Linked DNA regions of Homo sapiens. The protein of the gene in region 1 purifies or fractionates together with the protein of each later gene. This does not show direct contact. Each region holds a gene or a part of one and is shown on either strand. Other genes may lie near its edges.

Region 1 (3,500 bases):
TCTTGGAAGCAAGAGGCAGTATGCAGGTCAGAATGGACTTTTCTTAAGTGTTTCTATAACTTACATTATGCACCCATGTACAGTGATGGTGCTAGTTATTTCAGGCTTTTCCTATTTCAGTAACAAGCAATATGAAGCATTATATCTATTGTAAATGTCTTCTTTCACACTTTACTTTTTTTTTTTTTTTTGAGGCGGAGTCTTGCTCTGTCGCCCAGGCAGGAGTGCAGTGGTGCAATTTTGGCTCACTGCAAGCTCCGTCTACCAGGTTCACACCATTCTCCTGCCTCAGTCTCCCGAGTAGCTGGGACTACAGGTGCCCACCACCAGGCCCGGCTACTTTTTTTGTATTTTTAGTAGAGGCAGGGTTTCACCATGTTAGCCAGGATGGTCTCGATCACCTGACCTTGTGATTCGCCTGCCTCGGCCTCCCAAAGTGCTGGGATTACAGGCGTGAGCCACCGTGCCCAGCCGACACTTTACTTTTTTCTATCTCTGCCAGGGCATTTAATGTGAATGCTAAATATCTGAGAATTTATATCATTTAATAAGAAATCAGGACAATAGATTGTTTAAATACTGATGGACACAGCCAAGTGCGGTGGCTCACGCCTGTAATCCCAGCACGTTGGGAGGCCTAGGTGGGCGGATTACAAGGTCAGGAGATCTAGACCAGCCTGGCCAATATGGTGAAACCCCATCTCTACTAAAAATACAAAAATTAGCTGGGCGTGGTGGCAGGTGCCTGTAGTCCCAGCTACCTGGGAGGCTGAGGCAGGAGAATCACTTGAACCCAGGAGTCGCAGGTTGCAGTGAGCCAAGATCGTGCCACTGCACTCCAGCCTGGGCAACACAATAAGACTCTGTCTCAAAAAAAAAAAAAAAATCCGTGTACACATGGCAGATTACAATTGGGAATTTTTGCATTTGAGCTTTGTGTTTGTGTATCTTTCCTTGTTGCATGTATGCAGTTTTCCCTTCTGAAATCCTAATGTGCATTAGGGTGGCAAATAAGGTAAAAAATAAAGGAGCAGAAAAAGGAAAAAGAACCAGAATTACTAAGGAAAATAAAAGAGTAGTTTTTTATATGTATATTTTCTGATTTCATAATGTTCCTTTCAATGAGGTATTTCTCCCCAGAAACTAAATGATTTTAAACTGGCAACACATTACACACATTGCTGCACAAATCATTATTCTCTATGGAAAACTGTTCACTTGAATTCCTCCAGAAGTAAAAGGTATCTTTTAGAGTAAACGACGATTGTCAGAAACAAAAAGAATGCTAGCGAAAGCACTTTGTCCATATGTCTATTCTAGCACTACCATGCTACATTGTAATTTCTGTTTATGAGTCTATTGAGGTCAATTAACTGGGCACTCTGTGAGGTCTAGAATGATATTTAATGTACTTTTATCTCCCTGTTGGCTATTAGAGTGCCTGAAACATAGTAGATCCTCATATTCAGGAATGAAAGGAAGGTAGTTCATAGGGAGAGGAATAGCAAGATAAGCAAATATAAATTCGGACACCTATTTGACTAGAATTGAAAGACTGTAGAGGTCAAAGAGTTGCCAATCTTATGGGAATAGAAACATGTTTATTTTCTGCTTCTAATCATACAAGTGTAGGATATAGGAGTTGTGAGAGTCTATGCTTCCATAAAATGCTTCAGGGCACCTGGCTGGCTCACACTGTAGCGCATGAGACTCTTAAAATGCTCCCTTTTTTTCTACCAAGATCCTTATCTCCCTCTGCTCAGACTCCTCGCCCTGGGCTCCTGCTTCTCTTATGGCCAGCATCTTGATCCAACTGCCCTCCCTCTGGCCCTTAGAGATCAGAAAGAGGCCAGAGCCAGTGGTCTGCAGTAGTGGGGATGGCTATAGCCTGAAGATGGCCAGTGCCTCTGGAGCCAAGAGGAACCAGGGACAGTTCGGGTAAAAATGGGCTTGGGAAGCAAACGGACTATCGTTTAAGGGATGAGCATACAGATAAGTGATCCCAAAAGAACATACAAAGCTGATCTCAAGGGCGAGGAACTCGTAGATGCCAGTGGATCATCATTACTCCAAATTTCAAACCAAGCCCAAGACTTGGGGTTTCTATTTGAACACATTCTGAGCAGGTTATTGGCACAGACTCAAGGGTCAATCATGGCAGGGGGCAGCTAATCAGATGTTTGTTCCCAGGCCTCTACAACCAGTCATGGGAAGACTGAGGCTTAAGTGCTGTATTAGTCCGTTCTCATACCGCTATAACGAAATGAATGAGGCTGGGTCGTTTATAAAGAAAAGAGGTTTAATTGGCTCATGGTTCTGCAGGCTGTAAAGGAAGCATAGCAGCATCTGCTTCTGGGGAGGCCTCAGGGAACTTACAATCATGGCAGACGGCAAAGCAGAAGCAGGCACATCTCACATGGTGGGAACAGGAGAAAGAGAGGGAGGAGGTGCGACACTGTTTCAAAAACCAGATCTCATGAGAACTCACCACTCACTGTAGAGTACCAAGAGAGATGGTGCTAAAACATTCATGACAACTCCACCCCCATGAGCCAATCGCCTCCCACTAGGCCTTCCCTCCCACACTGGGAACTACAACTCAACATGAGATTTGGTGGGGACACACATCCAAATCATATCAAGAGCTGAAGATCCAGTCCTTGTGTTGACACTGCTGGGGAGCAGACTTTGGGAAGTAAGGGGTCACCAAGGAATAAGGCAAGAAATCAGTTACTTGGAAATTACGATGCCAAGGTCAGAGCAGGATTAACTGTACAAGCAGGAGTTAGAAGAGTCATATAGAGATGCTTCAGAAAAAACATTATAATTATTATAAATATAATACTGTTATAATAATAAGACAGATGATAGGAATTCTAGATGACTGTTTTTTGATATAAAAGCCAAAAAAATCAGAATTCAGTAGATTAAAACAATATTTTTCATATATTAATTACAAGCATGAAGAAGAAAAAGGGGAAATAAAATATAAACACAGTTCAATTGTTCTTTATATTTTAGCATATAGGGAGATAGTACTGGAGAGGCTACTAAGAACAGATACTCAATAAATAAAATATATAACATAAAAATTCCAATAAAGTATAGTGTTTTATATATATATAATATGGTATAAAATATATAAGAACTTGTTCACCTCAAAGTTTATGTTTTTGGTGTCCTTAAATTGAAAACAATTAAATATTCATACATATAATCTGTAGAAATATAAATCTTTTCTTCTTATTTACAAGTTACTTTATTATTACTAAATTAGTTATTTTCTGAATTCTAATTTATCTGATGGTAGAAAACACCCAATTACATACAACCTAGCAATTTGTGCAAACAATGCACTAGGCACATGATTTTCTACAGCATACTATTAAGCTGTATCTTTTTTTAAAGAATTTGGGTGCTAGCGGATTATGAATTAAAAGGTTACTGTGTCAAATTCACATTAACTGGTGGCAAGAACAAAAATCTGGCGTCACCACCGC
Region 2 (4,119 bases), on another chromosome or scaffold:
AGTGGGAGGAACCAGACAATCAGTATCTTCCCCTGCCACCCTGCAATAGCAGATGATGATGGCCTTGGGGTCCTGTCCTTCCTCATATAGGGCTATTTCCATTCTCACCCCTGCTTGGGCCCTTGCCTGGGCACCAGACATCCCATCTTGGGACAGAATTCTTTGCCCCTAGAAAGATATGTCAAGGCTAGAAGAAAATCTGAGATCATCAAGTTCAACTCGTTGATCATCAAGTTCAACAGAGAATAGCAGTGACTTGTTTAAGCTGTCACAGGCAAAGACTACAATTAAATCAGTTATTATCTATAAGGTGTTGAGAATTGTGCCTGACACACGGTAAGCACCGTTTACATGTTTGTTTTTATATGAAACAGATCAAAGTCTTCTAATTGCCACCTTTCCCACTTCTAGTCAGGGATTCTCATCCTGCTTCAGCACCCTATTACCTGTTGTGTTGCATGAAGACCAGGTTCCAAAGCTCTACCAGCTGGGGGGCTCCCACCCCACCAGCAAGGTCGTAGTGGATCTCAGTACAGGGCCCACAAGGGCCAGTATCCCCCATCTCCCAGAAGTTCTCTTGTGGTCCAAAGGAAAGCACACGGCTAGCAGGCACCCTGGGGAGAAAAGCAGGTGAGTGGTGGGAGACAGACAGACCCAGAAGCTGGGACTCTCTCTGCCATGAGAGCCCCTCCCTCAAGTCACAGCTCAGCAAGAGGAGGAACAGGGCTGACCCCACAATATCCTGGAATGAAATGCTAAGACTCTGAGGATTGGTGCTGGTAGTCTCCACTTTCCAGTCCTCCTGACCTCCAGGAATGAACATAAGAAGGGGGCTGACTTACCCTAAGCTCAGCCAGATGTCCCTGGTCTCCAGGTCTGGGTCCAGCCCTGCCTTGGGGTCACCATCAAAGTAGGAGATCCAGAGCCTTTCCTCAGGGATCCCATAGACCTGAGTCAGCAGTTCCCAGGCCATGTTACAAGCCTCCTCCTGCAGCAGAAACCAGCATGGGGTGGGGGGGGAAGACGGGTGAGAGGGAGACCCCACTGAAGTAATCAAGCCACATGAGTTTAGCTCCCGACTTAAGACAAAAGCATTTCTGCTGCCATCTTGTTCCCAGAATAAGCCATGAACCATTACTGCCTCTGAGTGTTTTCCTGCCCAGAAAGCTTCCCCCTTCTTCTAAGTCCTATCTTCTTTCAAGTCCCAGACCAAGTCCCACTTTCACATGAAATTCTCTGCCTACTCTAGCCTAGAGTGATCTTTAACTCCAGTAAGCACCTTAGCATTGCTGTTTGACCATTTATTCAAACAACAATTTTTGAGTGATCATTAGGCAGAAAGTACAGTCTCTGCCCTTCAGGGACTTACAATCCAATCAGGGAGGTGAGGTAATTCCTGTTACACCGGCTCAACTAGCACTTTGCCTCCACATCTGGTATGAGGCCCTGCCTAAGCAGACAGTACAATGGAAACAGGACAAATTGACTCCCTTCTTGGCTGATCACTGATCCCCAGAGACTCACCTTAAAATATTCACCCCCAAAGGCCCAATTGCCAAGCATTTCAAAGAAGGTATGATGGGAAAGGTCTCGACCCACATCTTCCAGGTCGTTATGGTGTCCTCCAGCTCTCACACATTTCTGGCTGTTGGCCACACGTCGGAAGCCTGCCATCTCGCTTCGTGGATCCACGGTGCCCAGAAAGATTGGCTTGAACTGGAAGCACATAGAGTGGGGAGGGGGAGAGGGATATCCAATTTCTCAGTAGAAGGGAAATGTGGGGAGTGAGGATAGGGATGGCTGTTCAGACCGAAGGCTGACTGTGCCCCTGAGAGTGCAGTGTAATCTTGGTCTATGAGGACAAACTGGGAGCCTCGGGACAGCCATCTCTGGTGTGTGGGGAGCAGAGAAGAGGTAAACAAATCATGAACCGGAGACCCTCTGCCTAGTAAAATAGGCAAGGTAAAAGAAGGAGGAATGTGTTGGGAGCTGGAAATGGGACGCTGAAAGGTGGCATCCTCCGTCTCAGCTTCTTCAACCACACCCAATAACTTCAGGGAACAAAACTGAGACTCATTTAGTAGGGAGCCCAGACGGCCTCTAAGGTTAACTTATGCCGCCCCTATTTTACAGATGAGGACAATGAAGTCTAGAAAAGATGAGTGGTTGATAAAAACCAAAACCTTAGAGAATAGTACTCAGCAAACAATAGGTGATCAATAAACATTTAATGAAAGCGTTATCTTTATTTAAATAACGAATAAATGAAATCAGACTTCTCCCTCGGGATTCCACTCCAGCCATTTCTGGACCTAATACTCAATCCCAATCCAGAAGTTCCCAGCTCAAGCCCTCCCCAAGCCCTCCCTATACTCTGAGCGCCGTACCCCCATCACTTTACCCAACCAAGCACCGCCCTCTTTCCCCAAAAGCTACGAACTCCGCCTCTCGCTTCTTTTGCCCAATCCTGCAGCGTCTTTCTCACCAGAAAACTCACGAACTCCGCTCCCTATCAGTATGGTTCGGCCCTCACCTGGTTCATGCCCGCATTGACAAAAAGCAAACTGGGGTCGCCGCGGGGCCGCACGGAAGCGGAGGGCACCAGCCGGTGGCCATGGCGGTCCCGAAAGAAGTTCAGAAAGGCGGCCCTCACGGCCGAGGCCTTGGCTGCAGGGGGCTCCGATGAGAGCGGCCGATGGCTGAGGCCCCGCCATGCGGGCGACCTTCGAATGGCCCGCCGCAGCCTCCGGGCTGCAGCTGCCACTGACGCTGCCATCGTAGCTCCGGGCAGTGACTTTACGTGGTCAAAGAGTGACGAGGGAAGGAAGCCAGGCGTTTCCTACAGCGGCCCCTGGCGGTAGGAGGACTCAGGGGGCGGCCTCTGCCGCCGGGGTGGAAGCGATCGATTGGGTCGCTGGCAGAGTCTAGCACAGCGCCCGGCACATAGTAGGCTCTTAATTCATTCGGCATTAAGCAAATATTCATTGAGAGCCTACTATGTGCTAGGCATTGTTTTGGGCTTTTAGGGTACAAAATTGACAAAATGCCCTGCCCACTGAAATCCGTATTCTAGCAGTAATTGCTGTTGTGCTTATTAGTTTTGCAAAGTTACAGATGGGGTTGCAATAAACAGGTGTGGATTCAACTTCGTGTGTGTGTGTGTGTGTGTGTGTGTGTGTTTTGTGTGTGTTTTTCCAGGCTGAGGGAAGAAGGCAGAGAGTGACAGGGGAGTATCAGCATTCATTCAAGAGGTATTCAACAAATATTTATTGAAGACCTAGTATGTGCTAGGCACTGTTCTAGGCATTTGCCAGTTTCCTTGGACCTTGGCATCAGACACGGCCATTTTTGCCCGTGAAGCAGGAGTCTATAGGAGAACACAGAAGCCAAACAGCATCTGCTATATTATTAATTGCCTAACATTTGGTCTTCTCATTTGCCTGGGGATCAGAGAGAATCCAGGTCGTCAAGGCAGGAGGAAGCTGTTGGCTAATAGCTGCAGAGATTTCACTCTCTAAGCCTTCTAATGCCCTAAGGTTTTGTGTGTTTTCGTTTAGGATAAGAGATATACCTGTTCTACCTCTCCCTTCTGTCTTTCCATAGTAACAGCTGTGACCCTGAAGCCAACAGGCCCTTGTGGATGCAATCAGGGTGCTCATGGGGCTTCTCATGATGCCCTTGGCTTGGGAAATTAAACAGATTGGGAAGACAGAAGAGAATCTGCCAAAGCTAAAACTCAATAGAGGTTCCAGAGCTGAGGTCAGTGTAATAACCGAGAAGGCCTTAGCCATCAGGGTGGTCTCTTTTAGCCACGATTCTGTGTGTGTTAAGTTATTTGGGGTCTTTGTATACATAGTTTCTCTGCGGAATCTACATTGGACTTGAATTTCTATAGTGATAGTAAATTCTTAACTTTGTGTTCTGACAGCACCTATAACTCCTATTCCATGATCCCCTTTTTCTCCCTTTGCCCACATAGATTAAAGGTGTTGTTTTGAAAGTGTGTTTGGCCTGTTTTGGTTTTTCCAGTGTTTCTGGAACAGAAAGCTAAAGCCAGCTGGGGATTTCTGTGTGATTAATGACTTTTTTATTTTTTTGAGATGGGGTTTCACTCTTGTT

Evidence for each region. Proteins that work in one complex are often made in the same cells at the same time.
Region 2: the proteins of FGL1 (region 1) and AARS2 purify together in Homo sapiens (affinity purification with mass spectrometry; 4 studies listed by BioGRID and IntAct, with this or other methods). This does not show direct contact.

The regions. Positions count from the first base shown.
Region 1 is NC_000008.11:17,878,525-17,882,024, reverse strand, and holds part of FGL1 (fibrinogen-like protein 1 precursor), read left to right. Parts: coding exon 1-26; intron 27-3,500. UniProt on the Homo sapiens protein: Immune suppressive molecule that inhibits antigen-specific T-cell activation by acting as a major ligand of LAG3. Responsible for LAG3 T-cell inhibitory function. Binds LAG3 independently from MHC class II (MHC-II).
Region 2 is NC_000006.12:44,310,548-44,314,666, forward strand, and holds the start of AARS2 (alanine--tRNA ligase, mitochondrial), read right to left. Parts: upstream 2,801-4,119; 5' UTR 2,777-2,800; coding exon 2,534-2,776; intron 1,717-2,533; coding exon 1,525-1,716; intron 989-1,524; coding exon 843-988; intron 615-842; coding exon 447-614; intron 1-446. UniProt on the Homo sapiens protein: Catalyzes the attachment of alanine to tRNA(Ala) in a two-step reaction: alanine is first activated by ATP to form Ala-AMP and then transferred to the acceptor end of tRNA(Ala). Also edits incorrectly charged tRNA(Ala) via its editing domain.